Linked DNA regions of Homo sapiens: all the other regions are linked to region 3. The links come from fine-mapping of genetic effects on gene expression. A gene starts in region 3. Each other region holds a variant in brackets. All regions are shown on one strand. Distances are from middle to middle.

What was found.
Region 1: its variant is fine-mapped to the expression of PSMB3 in whole blood (INTERVAL, PIP 0.94).
Region 2: its variant is fine-mapped to the expression of PSMB3 in whole blood (INTERVAL, PIP above 0.99).

Annotation. Positions count from the first base shown.
Region 1 is chr17:38,817,284-38,827,991 of GRCh38, reverse strand. CWC25 (CWC25 spliceosome associated protein) reads left to right here and starts at 2,671. Exons shown (of 10, transcript NM_017748.5): 1 at 2,671-2,826; 2 at 6,919-7,091. The coding sequence starts at 2,809. It overlaps MIR4727 (microRNA 4727), which reads right to left and starts at 2,154; the gene lies at 2,100-2,154. RefSeq lists an enhancer at 3,332-3,963. The variant G/A (reference allele first, on the strand shown) is at 5,907.
Region 2 is chr17:38,802,903-38,813,610 of GRCh38, reverse strand. CWC25 (CWC25 spliceosome associated protein) reads left to right here. Exons shown (of 10, transcript NM_017748.5): 4 at 747-816; 5 at 3,016-3,143; 6 at 3,846-3,909; 7 at 6,635-6,846; 8 at 7,216-7,314. Among named protein-coding and RNA genes, the nearest start is that of PIP4K2B, 8.7 kb to the right of the region's middle. The variant G/TG (reference allele first, on the strand shown) is at 4,529.
Region 3 is chr17:38,749,082-38,757,382 of GRCh38, reverse strand. It overlaps PSMB3 (proteasome 20S subunit beta 3), which reads right to left and starts at 4,642. Exons shown (of 6, transcript NM_002795.4): 1 at 4,554-4,642; 2 at 4,049-4,233; 3 at 1,393-1,500. The coding sequence starts at 4,556. It overlaps TRN-GTT2-5 (tRNA-Asn (anticodon GTT) 2-5), which reads left to right and starts at 5,529; the gene lies at 5,529-5,602. LOC100287808 (a long non-coding RNA gene) reads right to left here. Exons shown (of 1, transcript NR_149004.1): 1 at 5,631-8,301. It also overlaps a transcript of PCGF2 not described here and the pseudogene RNU6-866P.

The DNA of each region.
Region 1 (10,708 bases), 69 kb before region 3:
GGCCAGACTGGTCTTGGATTCCTGACCTCAGGTGATCCACCTGTCTTGGCCTCTCAAAGTGCTGGGATTACAGGCGTGAGCCACTGCGCCCGGCCCTCTTTTATTTTTTGAAACAGGGTCTCGCTCTGTTGCCCAGGCTGGAGTGCAGTGGTATGATCTTGGATCACTGCAACCTCTGCCTCCTGGGCTCAGGCAGTCTCTCACCTCAGCCTCCTGAGTAGCTGGGACTACAGGCACATGCCACTATGTCCTGCTAATTTTTGTATTTTTTGAGAAACAGGGTTCTACCACGTTACCCAGGCTGGTCTCCAACTCCTGGGCTCAAGTGATCCACCTGCCTCGGCCTCCCAAAGTGCTGGGACTACAGCAGTGAGCCTGCTTTTCTTTTAAGTAAACTTTATTCAAATACATTTAAGTAAATATTTAATAGGTATTTTGTTTGTTTCTTTTCTTTTTTTTTTTTTCTGAGACAGAGTTTTGCTCTTGTTGCCCAGGCTGGAGTGCAATGGCGCTATCTTGGCTCACCACAACCTCTGCCTCCTGGGTTCAAGTGATTCTCCTGCCTCAGCCTCCAGAGTAGCTGGGATTACAGGCATGTGCCACCACGCCCGGCTAATTTTGTATTTTTAGTAGAGACGGGGTTTCTCTATGTTGGTCAGGCTGGTCTCAAACTCCCAACCTCAGATGATCTGCCCGCCTCAGCCTCCCAAAAGTGCTGGGATTACACGCGTGAGCCACCGAGCCCAGCCTGTTTCTTTCTTTCTTTCTGTTTTTTTTGAGACAAAGTCTCACTCTTGTCGCCCAGGCTATAGTGCAGTGGTGCCATCTTGGCTCACAGCAACCTCCACCTCCTAGGGTCAAGTGATTCTCTTGTGTCAGCCTCCCAAGTAGCTGGGATTACAGGCACCCGCCACCACGCCCGGCTAATTTTTGTATTTTTAGTAGGATGGGGTTTTTCCATGTTGGCCAGGCTGGTCTCAAACTCCCAACATCAGGTGATCCACCCACCTGCCTCGGCCTCCCAAAGTGCTGGGATTACAGGAGTGAGCCACCGCGCCCGGGCAATAAGTATTTTTAAAAAGCCATAAGAACTAATAAGTGAATTTAGCAAGCCTGTAAAATAGAAGGTTACTATACAAAAGCACGTTCTTATCTATTAGTAGCAAACAATTGGAAAATTAAAATTTTTAAATTTTATTTAAAATAGCATCACAGGCCGGGTGCCTGTAATCCTTGCATTTTGGGAGGCCAAGGTAGGCGGATCACCTGAGGTCAGGGGTTCCAGACCAGCCTGGCCAACACGGTGAAATCCCATCTTTACTACAAACACAAAAATCAGTAGGTCGTGGTGGCGTATGCCTGTAATCCCAGCTACTCGGGAGGCTGAGGCAGGAGAATCGCTTGAACCCAGGAGGCGGAGGTTGCAGTGAGCTGGTATTGCGCCACTGTACTCCAGCCTGGGCAACAGAGTGAGATTCCGTCTCGAAATAAATAAATAAATAAATAAATAAATAAATAAATAAATAAATAAATAAATAAATAAAATAGCATCACAAAAAATACAACATTTAGAATAAATTTAACAAAAGATGTGCAAAACTTCTATTCTGAAAATTACAAAACAGGTCGGGCGCAGTGGCTCACACCTGTAATCCCAGCACTTTAGGAGGCCGAGGTAGGAGGATTGCTTGAGTCCAGGAGTTTGAGACAAGCCTGGGTAAGATGGCAAAACCCTGTTGCTACAAAAATAAAAATAGCCAGGCGCGGTGGCTTATGTCTGTAATCCCAACACTTTGGGAGGCTGAGGCGGGGAGATCACTTGAGGTCGAAATTCGAGACAAGCCTGAGCAACATGGTGAAACCCTGTCTCTACAAAAAATACAAAAATTAGCCGGGCGGGTGGCGGGCGCCTGTAATCCCAGCGACTTGGGAGGCTGAGGCAGGAGAATTGCTGTCCGGGAGGCGGAGGTTGCAGTCAGCTTCGACCGCAGCCTGGGAGAGCAAAACTCCTTCTCAAAAAACAAAAACAAAGGGAGAAGAAGAAAAAGAAAAAGAAAAAAGAAAAACATGCCAAAAACACATAGTAACTGAAGGGAAAGGAATCTGCCAGCTTCCCACTATGGGAAAATCTGCCACTGTGGAAGCTGGCAGATTTTAAAAGTTTGGCAAACGGAAGCTGATGGAATTTCGATTTGATGGTTTCTATTTAGCTTCGTAAAATAGGCCTGGCATAAGGGGATTTGCTGTGAGTCAAGGTCTGAGGAAAGCGCCAGTTTGCAAAGCCGTTTTGGAAAACTGGAGCGTGGGGGTGTGTGCAGGGTGAGGGGAGGAGGCCTAGTCTGGTCCACCTTAGGTCTAGCAGAGACTACGTGGAGCTTTGAGCCGAATGCCCTGGTGAGCTGCCATGGCAACACAGCCGTGGGCACAGGCCCACGGCAACCCATCACTGAACAGAGTTGTGGCGTTTCAACAGAGAGTCTGGGACATCAGGCAACGTGGCGACCCGAAGCAGCCAAAATGAGACCTCGACAGCAAAGGCCTCGACAGCGGAGCCCGGACCTTTGCAAAATCTGCAAGTAACGCCAACGTCACAAAGCGCGACCGAGCCCTGTACGTCATCGTTCCGCGACGCCGACGCGGTGAGATGACGCCCTCCCGGAAGTGACCTCTAGAGCGGTGGTGAAACTGGCAGTTGACGGCTCCTGGGACTAGATCCCGCGAGGTAGCCCCCGAACTATTTCTCTACGTTTTCTCTTGATCCTCCCGAAATCTTCCAGATCCGCGTAGTGAGGAATCGTCTCCACCGTCATGGGGGGCGGAGACCTGGTGAGTGGAGGGAGGCCTGGGCGGGGGAGGACTGAGGCCGGGACGGAAATTGGCAGGGGGTGGGGGTAGAGGAAGGAGTGGATAACCATGGCAACGCAGCTTTGCTTTCGCCGGGAGGAGGCCGTTGCCCTGAAGAGGGGATGGATCCTTAGGGCAATGGAGGGGTGGGACTGAGATTTGGGAAAGTCCGAGGTGTGTCGCGAACAGTGACAGGTGGTGTTTGCGTGTTTGTTGACTGCGGCTCTACCGGCTGTAAATTCTGGGAAGACCGGGGAGGGGGCGGATGGAGCCATGGCTAGGAAAGGAGGTAGATATGGAGGACGTGTCACCACACTTTGTTTTGTATATCTTGTCTTGCCACACACCTCTCTTCCTTGGGTGAGAGTTCAGAGTCATGTCCTGGACTGAAGTAGGGGTGGTTTGTGCCCCATTCTCCCTACCCTAAGCCATGCCCTGGGGTCGTTTTTTATTTTTTATTTTTTTGAGACGGAGTTTCTTGTTGCCCAGGCTGGAGTGCCATGGCGCGATCTCGGCTGACCGCAACCTTTCCCTCCTGGGTTCAAGCGATTCTCCTGCCTCAGCCTCCCGAGTAGCTGGGATTACAGGCATGCGCCACCACACCCGGCTAATTTTGTATTTTTAGTAGAGACAGGGTTTCTCCATGTTGGTCAGGCTGGTCTCGATCTGCCGACCTCAAGTGATCCGCCCGCCTCGGCCTCCCAGAGTGCTAGGATTACAAGGGTTAGCCACAGCGCCCGGCCCTGGGGTCCTTTTTAAGCCTGAAGGGATCTTCCTGTCCATCTTTCTGACTTCCACACCTCCTTCAGTGCTGGATTCTGATCTGTAGTGGCAGAGCTTGCTTTTGAATTCATACCACTTAATATAAGTTATGTGGCAATGTCTCTTAAACTGAAACGTTCATTTGTAAAGCGCTAAGGCCCCAAATAGGGTAAATGTACCCACAAGAGCATGGGGCAAGGTTGGGAAAATGCTAGCCTCCGGAAAGTGGAGCTAATTGAACCAGCAAGTAGATCAGCTTAGCCGCCTGCCCAGTAAACCTATTAGTTTGTCATGTGTTCTCAATCACAGTGAGTGCCAGGACTCCATCTAGTTTCATCCAATTTAGTGTATTCTTCACATAACTGCATTTAAGGACAGGAAAGCTCTAATCCAGGGTTTCTCAACATTAGCGCTCTTGACAGTTTGGCCTAGATAATTCTTTGGGGGTGTGTGGTAGTGGTGGTAGTTGGGCTGTCCTGTGCATTGTAGAATGTTTAGCAGCATCACTGGCCTCTAGCCACTAGACTGGAGCTATCCACTAACACCCGTCTCCACCAGTTGTGACAGCCAAAAATGACTCCAGAAGATTTTCTCCCTGGGGAGCAAAATAATCTATGCTTGAGGCAGGGAGGACAAGATGGGAAGGGTTAGAGGGAGAAAGAGGGAGGGAGTGAGGGAGGAAGGACGGAAGGATGGACGGATGGTCAGACCAACTGACGGACTGACCCACAACCAACCAACTGAATGACCTGACGAAGGGGAGAGGCAGGACAAGGAGGGGAAGAGAAAAGGAAGAAAAGGGAGCTCTCATTGACCGAACATTTTCCACATGCCAAGTACCTTGTGGACATGATCTTATTTTCTTAATTGGTCTCCTGGTCCTCTCCAGTCCATTCTCTTTTCTTTTTTTTTTTTTAAGATGGAGTCTCAGCCAGGTGCAGTGGCTCATGCCTGTAATCCCAGCACTTTGGGAGGCAGAGGCGGGTGGGTCACGAGGTCAGGATTTGAGACCAGCTTGGCCAAGATGGTGAAACCCCGTCTCTACTAAAAATACAAAAATTAGCTGGGAGCAGTGGCGGGCGCCTGTAATCCCAGCTACTTGGGAGGCTGAGGCAGGAGAATCGCTTGAACCCAGGAGGTGGAGGTTGCAGTGAGCCAAGATTGCACCACTGCACTCTAGCCTGCGTGACAGAGCAAGACCTCGTCTCAAAAAAAAAAAAAAAAAAGTTAAAAAAAAAGTTGGAGTCAGGCTGGGTGTGGTGGCTCACACCTGTAATCCTAGCACTTTGGGAGGCCAAGGCGGGCAGATCATGAGGTCAGGAGATCGAGACCATCATGGCTAACACGGTGAAACCCGTCTCTACTAAAAATACAAAAAAAATTAGCTGGGCATGGTGGCGGATGTCTGTAGTCCCAGCTACTCAGGAGGCTGAGGCAGGAGAATGGCGTGAACCTGGAAGGTGGAGCTTGCAGTGAGCCAAGATTGCGCCACTGCACTCCAGCCTGGGCGACATCTCAAAAAAAAAAAAAAAAAATTGGCCAGGCGTGGCGGCGCATGCCTGTAATCCCTTTACATGGCTTATAAGGCCCTTATTCTGCTCCTTTCTCACTTGGCTTCTTCTTGCGTCCCTGCACCATCAGCTTGCCACATCTCCAGCCACACTGAATTATTGCTATGTTCTTTCTCACCACCAGGACTGCACTTGTCTGTACTGTTCCCCTCTGTTTGGAAATCTACCCCCCTCATCTCCCCTTCACACATCACCAGGCTAGTTTACAATTGTCTTTAGATATTACTTACTTTGGGGAACATTTCATTATTGGGAAAGTGAACCAAAGCAGTATCTGATGGGGAGGAGAGAGAGAAGTGTTCTTTGAGGGTGAATGGGGAGATCAGAACCAAGGAGAGATTCCTGGGAAGGAAAGTTGAAAGAGATTCTGGGTGGGTTGTAAACCATGCAAGTTTAGGGCAGGTGAAGTAGACCAAGCTAAGGTAGGTTGAGTTCCAAAGAATGAATGTCCATGCCAGGCACGGTAGCTCATGCCTGTAATCCCAGCACTTTGAGAGGCCAAGGCAGGCGGATCACCTGAGGTCGAGAGTTTGAGACCAGCCTGACCAACATAGAGAAACCCCATCTCTACTAAAAATACAAAATTAGCCGAGTGTGGTGGCGCATGCCTGTAATCCCAGCTACTCAGGAGGCTGAGGCAGGAGAATCATTTGAACCCAGGAGGCAGAGTTTGCCGTGACCCGAGATCCTGCCATTGTACTCCAGCCTAGGCAAGAAGAGTGAAACTCC[G/A]TCTCAAGAAACAAAAAAGGCTGGGCACGGTGGCTCACCCCTGTAATCCCAGCAGTTTGGGAGGCCACTGCGGGCAGATCATGAGGTCAGGCGTTTGAGACCAGCCTGGCCAATGTGGTGAAACCCCATCTCTACTAAAAAATACAAAAATTAGCCAGGCATGGTGGCACGTGCCTATAGTCCAGCTACTCAGGAGGCTGAGGCAGGAGAATTGCTGGCACCCGGGAGGCGGAGGGTGCAGTCAGCCGAGATAGCTGCACTCCAGCCTGGGTGACAGAGTAAGACTTTAAAAAAAAAAAAAAAAGAATGAATGTCCACTGTCAGAAGTGCATGAGTTCTGTTCTCTTTCAAAATATGTGCCTTCCTGCTCATTACTGCATTCCTCCTGTCTTGTCATCACCAACTCTGATTTAGGTATGGCTAGTGGAAGGATGACTTGTATGCTTTTAAGGTTAAAACTGTTTGAAGGGAATTCAGGAAGGACCCGTTCTATCCTGAAGCTTTCTTGTTCTTGTTCTTGTTGTTTTGAGACGGAGTCTTGCTCTGTCGCCCAGGCTGTAGTGCAGCAGCGCAGTTTCGGCTCACCGCAACCTCCGCCTCTTGGTTCAAGCGATTCTCCTGCCTCAGCCTGCTGAATAGCCGGGACTACAGGCGCACCTGCCACCACGCCCAGCTAATTTTTGTATTTTCAGTAGAGGCGTTTCATCATGTTGGCCAGGCTGGTCTAAAACTCCTGACCTCAAGTGATCTTCCCGCCTCCGCCTCCCAAAGTGCTGGGATTACAGGTGTGAGCCACTGCGCCCGACCTGTCCTGAAGCTTTATACACTTGAACAAGCTCCCCTTCCCCTCTAGATGTGTGAGAGATTATTGGAAGAAAACCTTGCCATTGTTGAAGACATCTTGCCCTCACACGCCTGCCTTGGGTATGGAAGGGTGGGTGAGGCAGGGCTAGTTATACCCACCACTCAGTCACCCCCCGAATTATCATCACCTTCTTTTTATTTACCACAGAATCTGAAGAAGAGCTGGCACCCGCAGACCCTCAGGAATGTGGAGAAAGTGTGGAAGGCCGAGCAGAAGCATGAGGCTGAGCGGAAGAAGATTGAGGAGCTTCAGCGGGAGCTGCGAGAAGAGAGAGCCCGGGAAGAGATGCAGCGCTATGCGGAGGATGTTGGGGCCGTCAAGTAAGTGAGGAGCTGGGGGTGCGCTTGTGTGTAGGGAATTGCAGAGCTGTCCTGAGATGCATCATCCAGTGTTGTATAATGGCTGAGTGCTTAAGGGCATGGGTTGTAATGCCAGACTCACCTGGATTCTAAGGTTGGCTTTGCATGTACTAGCTGTGGAACTGTGATCAAATTTGAGAGACTTGGTTACTTCAGTAGGACCAGGGAGTAATAATACCCAACGCCTTCTTAAGGTTTGTTGAGAATCAAATGAGATAACACGTAAGGACTTGCTGTAAGCCGAGCTCACAGTAGATGGCTGATAACCGTGATGGAGGATGGTTGCTCTACCCTGCTTCTCAGCATATGTTGAGGATGCAGTCCTGCCTTTGTTAATGTATTTCAGGCTTGCTTGGGTCGGCGGGGACAGGGGGCAGGGAGTGAGGTCCCATGAGAGAAGGTGGATGGTATGCTTGTCAATAAAAGCTGAGTGATTACGGCCAATGCCACTAGATTTTACCCTGCTTCAATTTCCTGTTGTATAATATAGGATACGAGTAGCAGATAATAACTACCCCATCCATCTCATAAAAGGAGATGGGAGTAAATATGTTTGAGAAAATAAAAAGCATACAATATGCAGTGTATTCTTAAGTCAGAATAAAATAAAATAACAGATAGACTAAAACTGGGGACTAGGTGCGGTGGTTCATGCCTGTAATTGCTGTATTTTGGGAGGCTGAGAAATCACTTGAGCCCAGGAGTTTGAGACCAGTCTGGGTAATGTAGTGAGGCTCCATCTCTGTTTAAAAATATATAGGCTGAGTGTGGCGGCTTATGCCTATAATCCCAGCACTTTGGGAGACTGAGGCAGGCAGATCACTTGAGGCCAGGAGTTCTAGACCAGTCTGTAGTAGGAACCCATCTCTACAAAACAATAGAAAAAAATTAGCCAGGCACGATGGCTTACGCCTGTAATCCCAGCACTTTGGAAGGCCGAGGCGGGCAGATCACTTGAGGTCAGGAGTTCGAGACCAGCCTGACCAACATGGTAAAACCCTGTCTCTATTAAAATACAAAAATTAGCTGGGTGTGGCGGTAATCCCAGCTACTCAGGAGGCCGAGGCAGGAGAATTGCTTGAACCCGGGAGGCAGAAGTTTCAGTGAGCTGAGATCATGCCACTGCACTCCAGCCTGGGCGACAGATTGAGACTCCATCTCAAAAAAACGAACAAACAAAAAAAAAATAGAGGCTGGGTGCAGTGGCTCACGCCTGTAATCTAGCACTTTGGGAGGCCGAGGTGGGCGGATCACCTGACGTCAGGATTTCGAGACCAGCCTGGCCAACACGGTGAAACCCCATCTCTACTAAAAAAAAAAAAAAAAAATTAACTGGGCGTGGTAGCATGCATTTGTAGTCCTAGCTACTCGGGAAGCTAAGGCAGGAGAATCGCTTGAACCCAGAAGGTGGAGGTTGCAGTGAGCTGAGATTGCGCCAGTGTACTCCAGCCTGGCGACAGAGCGAGACTCCGTCTCAAAAAAAAAAAACCAAAAATTAGCCAGGCATGGTGGCACATGCCTGTAATCCCAGCTACTCGGGAGGCTGAGGCAGGAGAATCACTTGAACTCAGGAGTTGGAAGTTTTAGTGAGCTGAGATCACGCCATTGCACTCCAGCCTGGGTGACAGAGTAAGACTTCGTCTCAAAAAAAAAAAAAGAAAGAAAGGAAAAGTTAGCTGGGCATGGTGGCATGTGCCTGTAGTCCCAGCTACTTGGGAGGCTGAGGTAGGAGGATTGCTTGAGCCCAGGAGTTCGAGGCTACAGTGAGCTATGATTTTGCCACTGACTTCGGCCTGGGTGACAGAGTGAGACTCTGCCTCTAAGTAAATAAATAAATAAATAAATAAGTAAAAATTGATTTTAGACTGAATACCCATTAGTCATAAGCCGAGGTACTATCCAAAGGTAAAAATTGTTTTGACATTTTTATTCACCAAAGCATTACACATCATGTGCTCAATTTATCAGAAATTTGGGCTTTTGTGGAGTCTGATTAATGAGGTCAGAGTACAGATGCACAACTGTAGAGAAAGGAGCCAGCATTGTTGCAGACTCATGCCTGCTTGTCTGTCGTGAATGGGGGAAGGTGATTTTATATGCTTTGTTTTGTTTTGCCCTATCACATGTCCTACAATATTGTAAAACACTAAGATCAGCATTTGGTTCTCTCTGCCCCTTCTCTTTTTGGTCTTTACTGCTAATGTATTTAGATGACTTAAGTATTCATCTGTTTGTTTTGTATAGTTCTTTTTTTTTTTTTTTTTTTTTTTTTTGAGATGGAGTCTCGCTCTGTTGTCCAGGCTGGAGTGCAGCACGATCTCGGCTCACTGCAAGCTCCGCCTCCCGGGTTCATGCCATTCTCCTGCCTCAGCCTCCTGAGTAGCTGGGACTACAGGCGCCCGCCACCACGCCCGGCTAATTTTTTGTATTTTTAGTAGAGACGGGGTTTCACTGTGTTAGCCAGGATGGTGTCGATCTTTGACCTCATGATCCGCCCGCCTCGGCCTCCCAAAGTGTTGGGATTACAGATGTGAGCCACAGTGCCCGGCTGGTTTTATTTTTGTTATTTATTTTATTTTATTTTTTGAGATGGAGTCTCATTCTGTCGCCCGGGCTGGAGTGCAGTGGTGCGATCTTGGCTCACTGCAACATCTGCCTCCTGGGTTCAAGCGGGTCTCTTGCCTTAGCCTCCTGAGTAGCTGGGATTACAGGCGCACATCACCACGCCTGGCTAATTTTAGTATTTTAAGTAGAGATGGGGTTTCACCATGTTGGTCAGGCTAGTCTTGAACTCCTGACCTTGTGATCTGCCCGCTTCAGCCTCCCAAAGTGCTAGGATTACAGGCGTGAGCCACTGCACCCGGCCTATTATTTATTATTATTATTATTATTTTTTGAGTCAGAGTCTTGCTCTGTCTCCCAGGCTGGAGTGCAGTGGCACAATCTCCGCTCACTGCAGCCTCCACCTCCCAGGTTCAAGCAATTCTCCTGCTTCAGTCTGCTGAGTAGCTGGGATTACAGGCGTGTGCCACCACGCCTGGCTAATTATTATTATTATTATTGTTATTATTTTTGTGTGACAGAGTCTCGCTCTGTCACCAGGCTTGAGTGCAGTGGTGCGATCTCGGCTCACTGTAACCTCCGCCTCTTGAGTTCAAGCGATTCTCCTGCTTCAGCCTCCCGAGTAGCTGGGACTACAGATGCACGCCACCAGGTCCAGCTAATTTTTGTATTTTTAGTAGAGACAGGGTTTCACCATGTTGGCCTGGATGGCCTTGGTCTCTTGACCTTGTGATCCGCCCATCTTTGCCTCCCAAAGTGCTGGGATTACAGGCGTGAGTTACTGTGCCTGGCCTAATTTTTTTGTATATTTAGTAGAGATGGCATTTCACCATGTTGGCCAGGCTGGTCTTGAATTCCTGACCTCAAGTGATCTGCCCGCCTAGGCCTCCCAAAGTGCTGGGATTACAGGTGTGAGCCACAGCGCCCGGCCCCATGATCAATTCTTATTTTTTTTTTTTTGAGACCGAGTCTCGCACTGTCACCTGCGTTGGAGTACAATGGCATGATCTCAGCAC
Region 2 (10,708 bases), 55 kb before region 3:
GATCATGCCACTGCACTGCAGCCTGGACGACTGAGCATGACTCTTTTTTTTTTTTTTTTTTTGAGACAATCTCTTATATTTGTGAGAGATTTTTGGCTTTGACACCATCATGTCGTTTTTTATTTATTTATTTTTTTTGAGACAGGGTCTCACTCCGTCACCCAGACTGGAGTGCAGTGGCACAATCTCAGCTCACTGCAACCTCCGCCTCCTGGGTTTAAGTTATTCTCCCACGTCAGCCTCCCGAGTAGCTAGGACTGCAGGTGCGTGCTGCTACCATGCCCGGCTAATTTTTTTGTTTTGTTTTTTTTGGTAGAGACGAGGTTTCACCATGTTGGCCAGGCTGGTCTTGAACTTCTGACCTCAAGTGATCCGCCTGCCCCAGCCTCCCAAAGTGCTGGGATTACAGGTGTGAGATGAGCCACTGCACCCAGCCCCATCATCATGTAGATTTTTTTTTTTTGGAGACAGAGTCTTGCTGTGTCACCCAGGCTGGAGTGCAGTGGCACGATCTCAGCTCACTGCAATCTCCGCCTCCCAGGTTCAAGCGATTCTCCTCCCTCAAGTAGCTGGGAGCGATTCTCCTCCTCCCAAGTAGCTGGGATTACAGGTGCACACCACCACACCCAGCTAATCATGTAGATTTTAACATGGGCCAGTTTGTCTGTATATGTTTGGAGAAAAGGTTACTCCATAGAATTTGGAGAAAAGAAATAGTCATGAATTTTGTAATTATCTCTCTTTAGGAAGAAGGAGGAGGAGAAAAAACGAGAGGTATTAAATAATCCAGTGAAAATGAAGAAAATCAAAGAATTGGTAAGTAGTATACCAGATAAGCACCAAGAGCATCTTTTAGCCATATAACGTGAGAACGTCTCTCCATTTACTCTCAGCTTACCAGGGGAAAAACAGAATGGCCTCTAAAACTTTTGTCTTTTAGAGACCATGTTGTGGCTATTTTATGTAATCATTTTTTTGTTTTTGAGACGGAGTTTCAATCTTGTTGCCCAGGCTGGAGTGCAATGGCATGATCTCAGCTCACCGCAACCTCCGCCTCCCAGGTTCAAGTTATTCTCCTGCCTCAGCCTCCCTAGTAGCTGGGATTACAGGGATGTGCCACCACGCCCGGCTAATTTTGTATTTTTAGTAGAGACGGGGTTTATTCATATTGGTCAGGTTGGTTATTTTATGTAATCTTAGTTTATTAAGCTTAATTAAGCTTGATTTTGGTTGAAAGTCTTTTGGGTGGGAGAATGCACCATGTGATGTCGTTTTTCCAGAAGAAGAGTGTGGGCTAAGCCTGTGGAAAGCATTACCATGCAGTGTGTTCAGGAGGTTGGAGTATGCCCTTGGTCGTGGTATAAAGCTTCTAGGGGCTGGGCGCGGTGGCTCATGCCTGTAATTCCAGCATTTTGGGAGGCCGAGGCGGGTGGATCACCTGAGGTTGGGAGTTTGAGACCAGCCTGACCAACACGGAGAAACCCTGTCTCTACTAAAAATTCAAAATTAGCCGGGGTGGTGGTTCATGCCTGTAATCCCAGCTACTTGGGAGGATGAGGCAGGAGACTTGCTTGAACCCGGGAGATGGAGTTTGCTGTGAGCCAAGATTGCGCCATTGCACTCCAGCCTGGGCAACAAGAGCGAAACTCTGTCTCAAAAAAAAAAAAATAAGGCTTCTAGGGCCCACTTACCATTCACATGACATATTATGTAATTGTGTCTTGGATCAGTTGGTAAGGAAAGTTAAAGATTGACCTTATAGTTCCTGACTGCTTTCAGTGGAATTGGAGTTCCTGTGACACAGAATGGAAACTCCTAGGCAGTGGTTTTGGTGACTGTTTAAAAACACAAATTCTTAGTCTCACCTACCAGATACCAGTTCAGTAGTTGGGGGTGTTAGTGCACGGCCAGGGTTAAGACCCTTCCCCTGGTGTGTTGACAGGGAACCCCTATAATGTCCTGGACTTCTGTAGACCCAGAGGCATGGAGTCAGGCAGTTTGTGCATGAGCCACGCCCCTCAAAGGAGACTGATAGGGGTCTCAGTAATCTTTTTTTTTTTTTTTTTTTTTGAGACGGAGTCTCGCTCTGTTGCCCAAGGTGGAGTGCAGTGGTGCAGTGACACGATCTTAGCTCACTGCAAACTCCGCCTCCCAGGTTCATGCCATTCTCCTGCCTCAGCCTCCTGAGTAGCTGGGACTACAGGCGCCTGCTACCATGCCCAGCTAATTTTTTGTATTTTTAGTAGTGATGGTGTTTCACCGTGTTAGCCAGGATGGTCTCCTTCTCCTGACCTTGTGATCCACCCGCCTTGGCCTCCCAAAGTGCTGGGATTACAGGTATGAGCCACCCCGCCTGGGCTTTTTGTTTTTTTTTAATGAGATGGAGTCTCACTCTGTCGCCCAGGCTGCTGGAGTGCAGTGGCGTGATCTCAGCTCACTGCAACCTCTGCCTCCTGGGTTCAAGTGATTCTTCTGCCTCAGCCTCCCGAGTAGCTAGAACTACAGGTACACACCACCACACCCAGCTAATTTTTGTATTTTTAGTAGAGATGGTCTTTCACCATATTGGCCAGGGTGGTCTCGAACTCCTGACCTTGTGATCCTCCCACCTCAGCCTCTCAAAGTGCTGAGAGATTACAGGCGTGAGCCACCATGCCCAGCCAGTAATCTTTTTTTTTTTTTTTTTTTTTGAGACACAGTTTCACTCTGTCACCCAGGCTGAAGTGCAGTGGCACAATCTCGGCCCACTGCAACCTCTGCCTCCTGGTTCAGGTGATTCTTGTACCTCACCTCTCAAGTAGCTGGTATTACAGGTGCCCACCACCACACCCAGCTGATTTTTGTATTTTTAGTAGAGATGGGGTTTTGCCATGTTGGCCAGGCTGGTCTCGAACTCCGGACCTCAAGTGATGATCTGCTCCACTCAGCCTCCCAAAGTGCTGGGATTACAGGCATGAGCCACTGCGCTGGCTGGTCTCAGTAATCTTGTGTGCTTGTGTTCTCGGCATTTTCCAGTTGCAAATGAGTCTGGAAAAAAAGGAGAAGAAGAAAAAGAAGGAGAAGAAAAAGAAGCACAAGAAACATAAGCACAGAAGCTCGAGTAGTGATCGTTCCAGCAGCGAGGATGAGCACAGTGCAGGGAGGTGAGCATGTGGCGACTGGCCTCCCTTCTCGTTGATTCACTTGCTCATTCACTCATTCATTCCACAGACATGAACACCTGCCCTGTGCTGGAAGCTGCCAGGTACTGGGCATTCAGTGATGAACACTTGAACATGGGCCCAGTGCCCACAGAGCTTGCCATCTAATGCTAGAGTTCCTTGGAGATGCTAAATGTGAGTGGGTATCTTGGCCATGCTGCTGGAGAGAGACCCTTAATAATGCTGACTTTAGCCTAGTAGGTCTTAGGTAGGTCAGACATCCTGGGGGTGACTCTGTTTCATCTCAGCTTAGGATTCCTTCAAGACTGAAGTGGGCTTTATATAGGCTTTTTTTAATGGACTGATGGCTGATGTGGGCCCATTTTGCATGTCTTCCTGTGGAAGCAGTCAGCTCCGCCGCTGCTGAGTCACTATTTGTCCCTGGAATAGCAGCATGAAGTGAGAGGAGAAGGTGTTCAGGCGTTGGGGCTTAGAAGCGAGGCCCACAGTTTTTCACAGGAAAATTTGATTGTGCTGATGCATTTTTCGGCATAGACAGTCCAAATAGAGAAACGTACTGCCAGGTAACTGCTGGGAGGCGGAAAGGTCACATTGGAGGCAAGAAGCATAGTTCAGCATAAGATATTTAAATTGGACCTATATATATTTTCTTTTTCAATGAGTGTGTGTATTTTGATCTCTTAGATCACAGAAGAAGATGGCAAATTCCTCCCCTGTTTTGTCCAAAGTCCCTGGATATGGCTTACAGGTAGGGATGTGGGCTTCTTGAAAGGAGTGACTGTGGGACTGTGGGATGTGCCACTTGGACAATGTGGATAGCAGGGAGGTGGGCAGTGAAGCCTGGGCTGCTGGGAAACAGGCCCATTCTTATCGCTGAGCACCTTCTTGTGGCTGATGACCCTCTGAGCAGAGAGACTAAACCACCAATGGGGCATTGAGACATTCTACCCATCCCTCTACAAATAATTTACATGAAATGCACACATTTTAAGTGTATAGGTTTTTTTGTTTTTTTTTTTTTTTGAGACGGAGTCTCGCTTGTCACCCAGGCTGGAGTGCAGTGGCGCGATCTCGGCTCACTGCAACCTCTGCCTTCCGGGTTCAAGCTATTCTCCTGCTTTAGCCTCCCGAGTAGCTGGGATTACAGGCGCCCACCACCACGCCCGACTAATTTTTGTATTTTTAGTAGAGACAGGGTTTCGTCATGTTGGCCAGGATGGTCTTGAACTCCTGACCTCAGGTGATCCCTCCGCCTCGGCCTCCCAAAGTGCTGGGATTACAGGTGTGAGCCACCGTGCCTGGCCTAAGTGTGTAGGTTGATGATTTTTGACAAACATAAATCTGCTGGGTTCTTTTTTTTTTTTTTT[G/TG]AGTAGCAGTGCATCATTATTTTGCCTAGGCTGGTCTCGAACTCCTGAGCTTAAGCAATCTTCTGAGTAGCTGGAAGTACAAGTTCAAGGCACCTGGCTTGACTTCTGTATTTCTGTATTTTTTTTTTTTTTTTTTGAGGTGGAGTTTTGCTCTTGTTGCCCAGGTTAGAGTGCAATGGCGCGATCTCAGCTCACCACAACCTCGACCTCCTGGGTTCAAGCAATTCTCCTGCCTCAGCCTCCCGAGTAGCTGGGATTACAGGCATGCACCACCATGCCCGGCTAATTTTGTATTTTTAGTAGAGACAGGGTTTCTCCATGTCAACCAGGCTGGAGTGCAATGGTGCAATCTCAGCTCACTGCAACCTCTGCCTCCTGGGTTCAAGCGATTCTCCTGCCTCAGCCTCCTGAGTAGCTGGGATTACAGGCACCTGCCATCACACCTGGCTAATTTTTGTATTTTTAATAGAGACAGGGTTTCTCCATGTTCGTCAGGCTGGTCTCAAACTCCTGGCCTCAAGCTATCCGCCTGTCTCGGCCTCCCAAAGTGCTGGGATTATAGGCGTGAGCCACCATGCCTGGCCTCATATTTCTGTATTTTTAACCTTGGGTCCTGTCCTCCATGCTTCTGCATCTCGCTCTTCCTTAACCTATAGTGAAGAGCTAAGCCAGGTGTATTCTTTTCTTTCTTTTTTTTTTTTGAGAGGGAGTCTCGCTCTGTCGCCCAGGCTGGAGTGCAATGGTGCGATCTCGGCTCACTGCAACCTCTGCCTCCTGCATTCAAGTGATTCTCCTGTCTCAGCCTCTTGAGCAGCTGGGACTACGGGCACCCACCACCACACCCGGCTAATTTTTGTATTTTTAGTAGAGAGGGGTTTGACCATATTGGCCAGGCTGGTCTCGAACTCCCGACCTTGTGATCTGCCCGTCTTGGCCTCCCAAAGTGCTGGGATTACAGGCGTGAGCCACTGCACCCAGCCAAGCCAGGTATATTCTTTTCTTTTCTTTTCTTTTTTTTTTTTTTTTTGAGATGGAGTCTCACTCTGTCGCCTAGGCTGGAATGCAGTGGCGCCATCTCGGCTCACTGCAAGCTCTGCCTCCTGGGTTCATGCCATTCTCCTGCCTCAGCTTCCCAAGTAGCTGGGACTACAGGTGCCCACCATGCCCAGCTAATTATTTTGTATTTTTAGTAGAGACAGTGTTTCACCATGTTAGCTAGGATGGTCTTGATCTCCTGGCCTCGTGATCTGCCTGCCTCAGCCTCCCAAAGTGCTGGGATTACAGGCATGAGCCACAGCACCCAGCCATCTTTTTTTTTTTTTTTTTTGAGACAGGGTCTTTCTCTCTCATCCAAGCTGGAGTGCAGTGGTGTGATCCTGGCTCACTGCTGTCTTGACCTCTTAGGCTCAAGGGATCCTTCTGCCTCAACCTCCTGAGTAGCTGGGACTACAGGCGTGTGCTGCCACACCGAGCTAATTTTTAAATATTTTGTAGAGACAAGGTCTCACTAGTTGCTCTGGGTGGTATCAAACTCTTGATCTCAGGCAGTCCTCCTGCCTCCGTCTCCCAAAGTGTTGGGATTCAAGGTGTGAGCGACTGCACCTGGCTGACCGAAGGAGATTCTTTTAGGGGATTCTGCAGATAACTAAGTTTATACAGTTCTCTGTGATAATTCTATGTGATGATATTGGTGTGCTCAGTGAGCTCCTTATGTAACATTTCCTGTTTCACTGCCTTTTCTTTTTTTTTTTTTTTTTTTTGAGACGGAGTCTCGCTCTGTCATCCAGGCTGGAGTGCAGTGGTGCGATCTCAGCTCACTGCAACCTCCACCTCCTGAGTTCAAGCAATTCTCCTGCCTCAGCCTTCTGAGTAGCTGGGATTACAGGTGCCCACCACCACGCCCAGCTAATTTTTTAATTTTCAGTAGAGACAGGGTTTCACCATGTTGGCCAGGCTGGTCTCGAACTCCTGACCTCAGGTGATCCCCCCCGCCTCGGCCTCCCAAAGTGCTGGGATTACAGGCGTGAGCCACTGAGCCCGGCCGCGTTTTCTCCTGAATAGCTGGATTTTCCATGTGAATAACTTCTCTTTTCCTTAATGATGTAGGTCCGGAACTCTGACCGTAACCAGGGTCTTCAGGGTCCTCTGACAGCAGAGCAAAAGAGAGGGCATGGGATGAAGAACCATTCCAGATCCAGAAGCTCCTCCCACTCACCCCCAAGACATGCCAGCAAGAAGAGCACCAGGGAAGCAGGGTCCCGGGACAGGAGGTCTCGATCCCTGGGCAGAAGGTCACGGTCCCCAAGACCCAGCAAACTGTGAGTGTGGGATTCACTGGGAAATAACCTGTGACTGTGGGGGCCTGGTCCCAGCAGGCATTTGTTTTTGCTTTTGGTGATGTCCGTCCATTGACTTTCCCAAATGTCTTTGCTTTGGTATTTCCTTTACATCATTTTTTTTTTCCACCTCAATGTAAAGCTCAGGCATCCAAAGCCACATATCTGTAGGTGTATTCTGTGCTTTGGGAGCTCTGGGGTGAGTCTAACATCAAACCCTATACCTTTGTTTTTCTCACACTTAGATTATACCTCTAAGACCATTAGCTCATCTTGCATTGTTTGAGGGATTCAGTGTAAGCCCCTGGACCAAAAAGGCTTTTTCCTCTTTGCCTTCTGTGTCTGCTACAGGCACAACTCTAAGGTGAACAGGAGAGAGACAGGCCAAACTAGGAGCCCATCACCTAAAAAAGAGGTCTACCAAAGGCGACATGCTCCCGGATACACCAGGTGAGTCAGGAGCCCAGTTGATTAACCACATTTTGCAGGCCTGAATCTAGAAGGGGCTCAAACCATGGCAAATGGATAATCCATCATTACCTTTTCGACGAACCAACTTTTATTTATCTTGCCAACCTGTAAGGGTCTGCGTCCCCTGCCTCCAGCCATGTGAGGACATTGAAAGGACGAGGTAAGGCTGGGCGTGGTGGCTCACGCCTGTAATCACAGCAGTTTGGGAGGCTGAGGTGGGTGGATCACCTGAGGTCAGGAGGTCGAGACCATCCTAACCAACACGGTGAAACCCCATCTCTACTAAAAATATAAAATTAGTTGGTCATGGTGGCACATGCCTGTAATCCCAGTTATTTGGGAGGCTGAGACAGGAGAACTGCTTGAACCCAGGGGTTGGAGGTTACAGTGAGCTGAGATCTCACCACTGCACAGCAGCCCAGGCGACAGTGCAAGACTTTGTCTCAAAAAAAAAAAAAAGTCTCTTAACAAAAACCAAGCCAGACACAGCAGTCCATGCTTGTAATCTCAGCGCTTTGGGAGGCTAAGGCAGGGAGGATCACTTAAGGTCAAGGGATTAAGGTTGCAGTGAGCTACGATCAAGCCACTGCATTCTTGCTTGGGCGACAGAGCGAGACCCTCTCTTAAATTAAACCCTCTTTAAAAAACCCCTCAATTATTCTCTCTGGGTGTGGTGGCTCATACCTGTAATCCCAGCAGTTTGAGAGTCCAAGGCAGGAGGATCGCTTGAGGCCAGGAGTTCCAGACCAGTCTGAGCAACATAATAAGACACTATCTCTACAAAAAATTATTTTAAAAACATTTAAAAAAACAAAAGCTAGTAGTTCTTTGCCCTGCCTGATCCCACTTTTAGTCATGCTACCCAAAGGCAACTACTTTCAGCTTTTTCAGTAGTTTCTTTTCATAGCTACATATTCCTAAAAATACAAATATGTTGCTGCCTCTTCATCCATTAATTTTAGATATTAGATATTTTCTTTTTTCTTTCTTTGTTTTTTTTGGAGACAGCATCTTGTTGTATCTCCCAGGCTGGAGTGCAGTGCCACAATCTTGGCTCACTACAACCTCTGCCTCCGGGGTTCAAGTGATTCTCCTGTCCCAGCCTCCCGAGTAGCTGGGACTACAGGCACATGTTGTCACGCCCAGCTAATTTTTTTTTTTTTTTTCTGAGATGGAGTTTCATTCTTGTTGCCCAGGCTGGAGTGCAATGGCCCAATCTCGGCTCACCACAACTTCCGCCTCCTGGGCCCAAGTGATTCTCCTGCCTCAGCCTCCTAGGTAGCTGGGATTACAGGCATGTGCCACCACACCCAGCTAATTTTTGTATTTTTAGTAGAGACAGGCTTTCTCCATGTTGGTCAGGCTGGTCTCGAACTCCCAACCTCAGGTGATCTGCCTGCCTCGGCCTCCCAGAGTGCTGGGATTACAGGCGTGAGCCACCACGCCCGGGCTTCCTTTTTTTTTTTTTTTTTTTTTGTCTCGCTCTGTCGCCCAGGCTGCAGCGCAGTGGCACGATCTCGGCTCACTGCAACCTCTGCCTCCCGGGTTCCAGCGATTCTCCTGCCTCAGCCTCCCGAGTAGCTGGGACTACAGGCGCATGCCACCATGCCCAGCTAATTTTTGTATATTTTAGTAGAGATGGGGTTTCACCATATTGGTCAGGCTGGTCTTGAACTCCTGAGGTCAGGTGATCTGCCCGCCTCAGCCTCCCAAAGTGTTCGGATTACAGGCATGAGCCACAGCACCTGGCCCTAATTTTTGTATTTTTAATATAGATGGGGTTTCAATGTGTTGTCCAGGCTGGTCTGGAACTCCTGAGCTCAGGCAATCCACCTGCCTTGGCCTCCCAAAGTGTTAGGATTACAGGTGTGAGCCACCGTGCCCGGCCAGATCTTAGATATTTTCTTACTGTTATAGTAAATAATCTGTTAGTGTAAATGAGCTCTCATACACTCCTAGTCCCATGTTTCTTCTATCCCTATCTTTCCAATATGGTTACATCAGAATTTTTGGTTCAGTGAGTATGTGGATTCATACTTGTATGATATATAAATATTGTTTACTGATACTTTTCATTCCTAAGCCAAGCAGAATATGGAGGTTACATTTCCTTTCTTGTATGATTTGTATATTTTTTCCTAGTGTCAGTATTTGCTTCCTGCAATCTAAACCATGTCTTTGAGTTCTAGGAAATTTTCTTGTATTATTTCTTTGATAACTTCTTTCTTCTCCCTACAAGGTCTCACTCTGTTGCCTAGGTTGGAGTGCAGTGGGGCGATCATGGCTTACTGCAGCCTCACACTCCCAGGTTCAACTGATCCTCCTACCTCAGCCTTCCAAATAGTTGGGGCTACACGGGTGCCACCATGCCCAACTAATTAAAAAAAAATTTTTTTTTTGCAGAGATGGGAGGTCTCACTTTGTTGCCTAGGCTGGTCTTGAACTCTTGGACTCAAGCAATCCTCCTGCCTAAGCCTCCCAAAGTGCTGGGATTACGGGCTAGAGCCACTGTGCCTGGCAATCGTTTTTGTTTTTTTTTTTTAAGCCTCCTACTCTCATTTGAATGCTCTAATATCTTTCATTTATTATCTGAAGCAGATTTTTAATAGTAAATTGTTTTTCGTTTGGAGGTTTTTATTTTTTTTTGAGACAGAGACTCACTCTGTCACCCAGGCTGGAGTGCAGTGGTGCGATCTTGGCTCACTGCAACCTCCGCCTCCTCGGTTCAAGCGATTCTCCTGCCTCAGCCTCCCAAGTAGCTGGGATTACAGGCACACACCACCACACCCAGCTTATTTTTGTAATTTTAGTAGAGACAGGGTTTCCCCATGTTGGCCAGGCTGGTCTCGAACTCCTGACGTCAGGTGATCTGCCCGCCTTGGCCTCCCAAAGTGCTGGGATTACAGGCGTGAGCCACCATGCCTGGCCCTATTTATTATTTTCTGAGGCTAAGTTATTCCTTCAGCTTCTGGCTTCTAGCTTAGTCCTAAAGTAGTGTACTCATGGGCTGTGTCATGAATTTCTAGTCTCCAATGGGTAGTTAGATGGTAGATGTTAACAGTTACATGGATAACCTAGTCTTCTGTTCTTCTGTCAATTGTTGAGCAAACCATTGGGATATAATTGCTACAAGTTTAGGTTCCTGATGAGTTCCCAATTTATTTCATATTTCATATTTCAGAATAATCACTCTAGAGATTACTGAGTGAGATTATGGAATACTTTACTAAAAGCCTTTGAAATTTGGATGAAACCTCCTGACCAGGACGTTAGAAGGGAACTCAGGCTGGCCTTGCACTTGGAGAGAGCAGTGAACTGGAGAGCTTGGGGTCCCACCTGGCTTCTGTGCTTCTTGTGCTGCTTCTGGTTTTTT
Region 3 (8,301 bases):
CACACCCAGCTAATTTTTGTATTTTTAGTAGAGATGAGGTTTCACCATGTTGACCAGGCTGGTCTCGAACTCCTGACCTCAAGTGATCCACCTTCCTTGGCCTCCCAAAGTACTGGGATTACAGGCATGAGCCACCACGCCCAGCAAGCCATTTAATATACATCCAAATATGAGTTAATTGTTACAACTTTATAAGACTTTTTGCAGGGCGCAGTGGCTCATGCCTGTAATCCCAGCACTTTGAGAAGCGGAGGCAGTAGATCAGTTGAGGTCAGGAGTTCAAGACCAGCCCGACCAGCGTGGTGAAACCTTGTCTCTACTAAAAAAAAAAAAAAAAAAAAAAAAAAATTAGCCAGGTGTGATGGCACACACCTGTAATCCCAGCTACTCAGGAGGCTGAGGCAGGAAAATCACTTGGACCCGGGAGGTGGAGATTGCAGTGAGCCGTGATTGCACACCAGGGCGACAGAGCAAGACACCATCTCAAAAAAAAAAAAAGAAAAAGTTTTTGAAAGCTAAAGGGTATTTTTACAAATTACAAAAATTACTTCAAAATAAAAAGTTAAAAGAAAAGAAAAAAAAAGAGATCAGGCCAGGCATGGTGGCTCATGCCTATAATAGGACTTTGGGAGGCCAAGGTAGGTGGATCACCTGAGGTCAGGAGTTCGAGACCAGCCTGACCCACATGTTGAAACTCTGTCTCTACTGAAAATACAAAAATTAGCCGGGTGTGGTGATATGGACCTGTGGTCCCAGCTACATGGCAGGCTGAGGCAGAAGAATCGATTGAACCTGGGAGGTGGAGGTTGCAGTGAGCCGAGATCACGCCACTGCACTCCAGCCTGGGTGACAGAGCAAGACTCCGTCTCAAAAAAAAAAGAAAAAGAGAGCTCAACTTATATTCTGGCCACCCAGGTTTGCCCAGAGGTAGAAAGCACCCACAGGGTTTCCTTTCAATTCCATCCTAGATTTCTGCACTAAATTCTACAGTTAGGCCCCTTGTTTCTCACCATAAAGCCCTCAAGGAGAACTGACGAAAATGAACACCCCATTCCTAGGCTCCCTGCTATTCCCAAGAAGCCAGTGCTGACAGAATAGCTCTAGGGCAAGAGTGGCTCCTGCTGGGAGACCCCAGAACACTCTGGTGGGACTAACTCTTTTGCCTAGATGCAAATTTATCTGCTATGTGCATTCCTTGCCTTCTTCCAACATAAGTATTTTCTTTCCTATCTGGTTGCCAGACAGGCCCAAAGAAAACACACCCATAAAATAAGGATATTATCCTGCAAATAAGAGATGGAAAAACAAGGAGAGTCCTCTTCCTCAGTACCTACTCCATACTACATTCAAAGATGTCTGCATTCCCTCAGTGCTAGCTACACTTGCACTCACCGTTTCTCATACAAGAGGTTGGCCACCATGCTCATGAGGGTATAAGGTTTGATCTGCCGACCTTCCTTCAACTCATACAGGTTCAGCCGGAACTTGAGGCGCTGGGCACTGAGGTAGGAGAAAAGTGAGTTAGTAAGTCATTATTGAATATTCCTGAGTGTCTACCCTGTTGAGGTCAGGGAAACATAAGGAGACATCTCATCTCAGTCCCTGCCCAGGGAAAACTGTAGTCTTACATGTGTTAGGAAGTAGCAACTGGTGCTTGCTTTGGCAGCACACACACACACACACACACACACACACACACATATATATATATATATATATATATTTTTTTTTTTTTTAGACGGAGTCTCACTCGTCGCCCAGGCTGGAGTGCAGTGGCGCAGTCAGTCTCGGCTCACTGCAAGCTCCGCCACCCGGGTTCACGCTATTCTCCTGCCTCAGCCTCTCAAGTAGCTGGGACTACAGGCGCCCGCCACCACTCCCGGCTAACTTTTTGTATTTTTAGTAGAGATGGGGTTTCACGGTGTTAGCCAGGATGGTCTCGATCTCCTGACTTCGTGATCTGCCCACCTTGGCCTCCCAAAGTGCTGGGATTACAGGCGTGAGCCACTACGCCTGGCCAGCAGCACATATATTAAAACTGGAATAATACAGGGAAGATTAGCAGAAGGATGACATGCAAATTTGTGAAGCGTTCCATATTAAAAATGTTTAGGCTGGGCGCAGTGGGTCACACCTGTAATCCCAGCACTTTGGGAGACTGAGGCGGAAGGATTGCTTGAGCTCAGGAGTTCAGCTGTGGGCAACATAGCGAAACCTTGCCTCTTACAATAACTACAAAAATTAGCTGGGCATGGTGGCACACACCTGTAGTCCCAGCTACTTGGGAGGGTGAGGTGGGAGGATCACTTGAGCCTTGGAGGCGGAGGTTGCAGTGAGTTAAGTTTATGTCACCAGCCTGGGTGACAAAAAAAAAAAAAAGGGGGCAGCACCAACTGCTGTGCTATGTGCTAACAGACTTGAAAGATGCCTTAGAAAAAGGCCATTTGGCAGCTCTGGTGAAAAAAGGAAAAAAGGTCACAGCTTGCCAGTTCCATCTCAGAGCCCCAGGATAGGCCCCTGCATAGAGCAGACCAATGCCACACCTGCTGGAGGAAAAGCAATGAGTCTCAGGACACCAGAGCAAAGAGACTTAGAAATGACTTGAGCTTCATCTTCCAGGTAAGGAAACTGAGGCCTAGTGAAATGAGCAGTCATTGCCCAGAAGGAAGCAAACGCAGTGAGAAAAGCCCTCTGAAGAAAAGGAAATGGTGTGAGAACAGCAGTGACTGCAGAAGGGAAGGCTCACGGGAGACTTCACTGACAGGAACCCCAGGATGTCATTCTCTGACTCTACCAGACAGGAAAAAAGGGCAGGCTGGGTGAGATCTCAGTAAGTGTTATGTTCTTGAGACTCAGGGAGTTTTAAGAGAAATGAGAACATTTTCTTTTATTCTTTCTTTTTTTATTTTGTTTGAGACAGAGTCTCGCTCTGTTGCCCAGGCTAGAGTGCAGTGGCACAATTTCAGCTCACTGCAACGTCCGTCTGTCAGGTTCAAGCAATTCTCCAGCCTCAGCCTCCCGAGTAGCTGGGATTACAGGTGCCCACCACCCAGCCTGGCTAATTTTTGTATTTTTAGTAGAGACAGCGTTTCACCATGTTGGCCAGGCTGGTCTGGAACTCCTGATCTCAAGATATCCGCCCACCTCAGCCTCCCAAAGTGTTGGGATTACAGGTGTGAGCCACCGCGCCCAGCCGAAATGAGAACATTTTCTGACAGGCATCCACCCACGCTTGTGAGCTAGTCTCTCCACCTTCTAGGAAACAAATCCAGGACCTGCTGCTCCTCAGGCACCAGTACCCTGCAGGACCTGCCCCCTGTGACCACGTATTCCCTCCTGAAAACCTATCACCGTTCTTTTCCTCTCTTATTCTTCTCTGGCTTCTCTTCGCCCCTCACTGCTAAATGTAACGTTCAGCTCTCAAACTGCCGCTCATTATTTCCCTCCCTACAGACTTTGTCTCTCCAGAATCTGCTCCCATAGATTTGGCACATTGCCAATGCTTCCCCAACCCTGAGATGTAATAACAAAACCCCAACTGCTTGCAAGATGTTTCTATTGGGCTTGTCTTGTCTGCTCAAAATTGTTGTCAAAATCAAAGTCAGGCCAGGTGTGGTGGCTCATGCCTGTAATCCCAGCACTTTGGGAGGCTGAGGCAGGTGGATCACTTGAGGTCAGGAGTTCGAAACTAGCCTGGCCAACATGGTGAAACCCTGTCTCTACTAAAAATACAAAAATTAGCCAGGCATGGTGGTGCGCGCCTGTAGTCCCAGCTACTTAGGAGGCTGAGGCACGAGAATCGCTTGAGCCTGGGAGGTGGAGGTTGCAGTGAGCTGAGATCATGCCACTGAGCTCCAGCCTGGGTGACAGAGCAAGTCCCTGTCTAAAAAAAAAAAAAAGAAAGGGAAGGACATGTTTTTTGGAGGCGGCAAAGTCTCAAACTCACTGGTGGTGTGTGGTAGATGACTGACACCTTGGCCGGTCAAGACGCCGGGGTTGGATGGTCCAAGAAGAGGCCTGGGTGTGGGCGGGGACCCTTGAAACTTACACTGTCTGGACGTCAGTGGCGAGCCCGGCCAGACCGATGTACAGCCGGTCACCCATGGGAAAGATCTTCTGGAAGTCCGTGGTCACCATCTGGGCCTGGATCCCGAAGCGCCTGTCTGCAGCGATGGCCACACAGTTCTTCCCCTTCATGGCCATGACGGCCCCTCCGTTATAGGACATAATAGACTAGGACAGACAGAGCGGAGGGGTCAGCGCGGGGGGTCAAACGCTGCCACAGCCCCCGGCCCAGCTCCTGATGCGGAGGCTCCTGTACGCCCGTTCTCCATTCCGGAGGCGTCTGAACCCCTGGTTCTCCAGCTGGGATGAGCACTGTGTGGCGGCAATGAGCCGCACTCACCCTCTTGGTCCTCACCGGGGCCCGCTCCCCTCGAACTGAAACCGCTTCCTTCCATCGACCCTAGGCCCTTTTCGTCCCCAAGCCTCTCCTGACCCCCTCCGCTTCTCAATCCTTCCCCATGCCCCTTTGCTTTAACTCCCCATCTCACCATGATTGCGGTGTACTAGGATCCCTCGATCGCCAGAGCAATTCCAGTAAACCGGGTCTAGCCTTCACTGCGCAACCGCTCTCACTGCTGTCTCTTCATTGGCTGATAGGCGGACTCTTCCTGGACATCTGGGCTTTCTATTGGTCACACGTCCCTGTCGGTCACCAGTACAGGTAGTTTGGTTGCAAAGTCAAAACGGAGGCGGGAAAAGCGGAAGTGAAAAGTCACTGTGGCTGCGGAAGAGACTTGCGACACGGTGCATAGTGGGATCTCGGCGGACCTGGACTCGGGACCTCAGGGACTGGGGGCGGAGCCTGCGCGCACGTGGGCTGGTGAAACTGGGTTTAGGAAGCTGCGGCCCCAGCTGAAGGGGCACCGTGACGCTTATCAACGTGATGTATGAGTTCGTCGTATTAGTCGTGCTAGCTTATTTATTCACTCCAGAAATCCTGCGTTTACTGTGTACCAGGCACTTGCCTAGGCTCGGAATATTCACTGGCCCACAACAGTGCCTAGTATATAGGAGGCGCCCATTAAATGGAAATTTAATGATGCAGGTGGGAAGGGGAAGGCGTCGCGTGTAGGCGTCGCGGGTATTTTGCGGCTGCAGGGGTTCAGCTGTGAAAGGGAGTTTGGAAGCCGAAGCTTGTTCTGATTTGGGGGACTTCCTGCGGCCCGACTTCACGTATCCTCAATCTCAGGTCACCCTAAAAAGGGACGTTCCGCGCCTCTCCACGTTTGAGGTAGAACCTGAGGATAGCCAGAGTCGACCTCTCGCCGTTCCAATGGAGGAAGGGCGTGCACGTCCCGCGTCCTCTCCTCCCAAGCTCTTTCGCCTCCCTCCCCCATCAGGATCCTTCCCTTTCTCCCCCGGGTTCCACTTATTTCGCCCGATGGCGGCATCTCTTACGGCGTCTGCGCCGTCCAGGCTCGCTCCCATTGACTCGGCTCACTACTACGCCGGTAGTCGACTCGGTCTCTGTGGCGCAATCGGTTAGCGCGTTCGGCTGTTAACCGAAAGGTTGGTGGTTCGAGCCCACCCAGGGACGCTATGACCTTTTTTTTTTTTTTTTTTGTCTTTTGGGTTTTTTTTTTCTCCCCGGAAGATAAAAACCTAAGCCTTTTACTCAAAAGCCAAATTTTGCATTGAAATGGCAGCAGCAATACTTTTTCTAGGAGAATCACTGTTCTTGAAAATTCTTTGCTGCTCAGTCAATAATGGGATAATTTCTCCAGCACTTCCCTCCACACCCCCCCAACCCGCCTCCAAGCTAGATCGCAGGAAACCTAAAGACACAGGTTTTTGTCTCACTGTGCATGCAACACGTTTCAGGATGCATTTTTTCATAGGATTAAGAATGAATTTACAGTGGAGGTTCGACAGTTTTCTATTGTCTGCCTCAATCGATATTACAGTCTCCAAATACTACATTTGGAAGGGAAGAGAATGAGAGAGACACAGAGAGAGAAACAAGTATGAAGAGAAACAAAGGTGAGAAAGGGAGAACATTGTTGTGATACAGGGAAAGAAGGGACGTGACAGAACTAGGCAGGGTGGGTAGGGGAAGACCTCAAGACAATGGAGAGTGGGAAAATAGACGCATTTAATATTAGAAGCATCAGAAAAAAAGGAAAACAACACATTTTTTCCCCCTAGAACTACACAGGGAGGTGGGGGAGGAAGATGGGGAAATAGAAGGAGAAACTGACTAAGGACCTTGTTTGGGGGAGATAAAAGGTATAAAGGACACAGAGGTAAAGACGTTCCGGAAAGCTCTAGAGGAGCCGCCCTCTCCTGTCTCGTCACCATTTTTAAAGGGATCTGATCCTCGCAATAGCTCTTGGTATATGCTGGAGGTAATTGCCTAGATTTCCCGCGTTCCTGTCCTCTGCGAGTCTCTGGCTTGTGACAGCCACTGTGACTCTTCTGATGCACTTGTCAGCTAGAGGACCGCGTGAGATGCAAACACAAAATCAAGGGGCGCCTAATGTCTGACGAGGCGCATTCCTGGGCGCAGTGGGAGCCTCGACCTTTGTGGAGGAGAATGTGCAAAGCACTCTTGAGCAGTTCTCATAGACACTTGGTCTCTGCAGATTCGGCTCAAAGGAGGCCTCTTCTGGAAGCCCACCCCAGTACTCACCCACCCTTAGCGGGAGCTCACACCAGAAGCGATGGGCGCTAAAGGGACAGGCTGTGTGTCCTTCAGGGTTTGCACCCACCGGCCTGTGAGCGCCCTGCGCAAAAGCCAGGCTCCTGTGCCTTGAGTTCCCAGTTCCTAGCGCAGTATTTGACACTGGCACATGACAGGTGCTTTCTATGTCGGCTAGTAGTAGAACAAAAGACTAGGAAACTCTTTCGATGTGGGAAGAGTTGGGTCAGAAGGTTCTCCTGAGAAACCAGAAAGGCCAGGAATGTGGAGACTAGTCATCCAGGACGCAAAAGATGAAAATGGAGTTTTAGTGGGTAATAGGGTCTTAGCACACTCCTCTCTAGCGGTTCTCTCCTGTCTGGCGCTTAACAACCGAAGAATAAGTGGATGGACCCCGGTGGCCCCTCGGGCAGCCCTCCAGGATTCATGGGCCGCAGAGGAACGTCAACCCCCTTCCCACTGGCTGATAATGCCCCGAGGGGCAGCCCCCCAGGTGCCCATGTGGTTGGTGGGTGGGATCCAGATCTCCGCAGAGCCCCTGTTACAGGTTTCTCTTGTTCGGGGTCTTGTAGCCAGAGAGGGGCGGCTGACTGGGAGTCCTTCCCGCGTTCCCCTCCCTGCAGAGCGAGTGGATGCGCGTCTTCCCCGGCAGAGTGCAGGATGCCGGCGACACATTTGCCTGGGAACAGTGGGAGGGTCCCCTTTCCTCCGGGGCCGGTGAACTACTCGCCTCTCCGCCTGCAGGCTCCGGAGCAGGTGACCGGATCTTCCCTTGGCCCTTCTCCCGCCGGTTCTCGGACCACTCCCTCTGGAAGGAAGTCTCTCCGCCCTTCCTCTTCCTCCCCGCCCCCGTCCCGCTGGTGTGGCTGCAGGCTCGAGCTGGGGTCACTCGGCGGCCAGTGTGCGCAGGTCTCCTGGTCGCCGGCCAGAGGGCGAAAGCATTCACCCGAGGCCCCCAGCTTCGCGGCTGCCTTGGCTGCGAGCAACGAGGGAAGAGGAGGCAGGCGCTCCAAAACTGGGCGAAGATTCCTATCCTAATTTCTAACTCGAGCCTCCCACCGTCAGTGCGCTTAATGGCGCTGCTGGCCGGATGGATAATCGAGCTCTCTGGAGGGACAGACGCGGCCGCCATCCCTAATAAATCGTGAATAACGAATGAGGGAATCGACCATCCTCATGAGGCCCACGGGCGTCCAGTAACGCAGTATCGATTCGCTTCCCCGGCGTCGGCCTCACCGCTACTCCCGGCGTTTCCAAGCCTCCCTCCTCGTTCTCTCCCTCCTGCCGGAGCCACTGCGGACCGGAGCCCCAGCGCCAGGTGGAGCCGGGGCGCCAGTGGGAGTCGGGCCCAGCCGTCTTGGCGCTCGCCCGACTCTCCCGCCCGCGCGCCCAGGGAGGCGCACAGGCAGCGCGCAGCGCAGGGCGCGAGCGAAAAATGCGGGAATCAGCGCCAGGCAGGAGAAAAGGCGCGGGCCCACCTTACAGCCCGGCGCCTCGTTTCCTAGTCCAGTGTGGCCGCTCGCCTTCGGCCGGATTATTGTGTCCCAGACCCGGAGCCTGAGTTCCCATCCTCAGCGGGCCTCCGTTCTTCTCTGCCC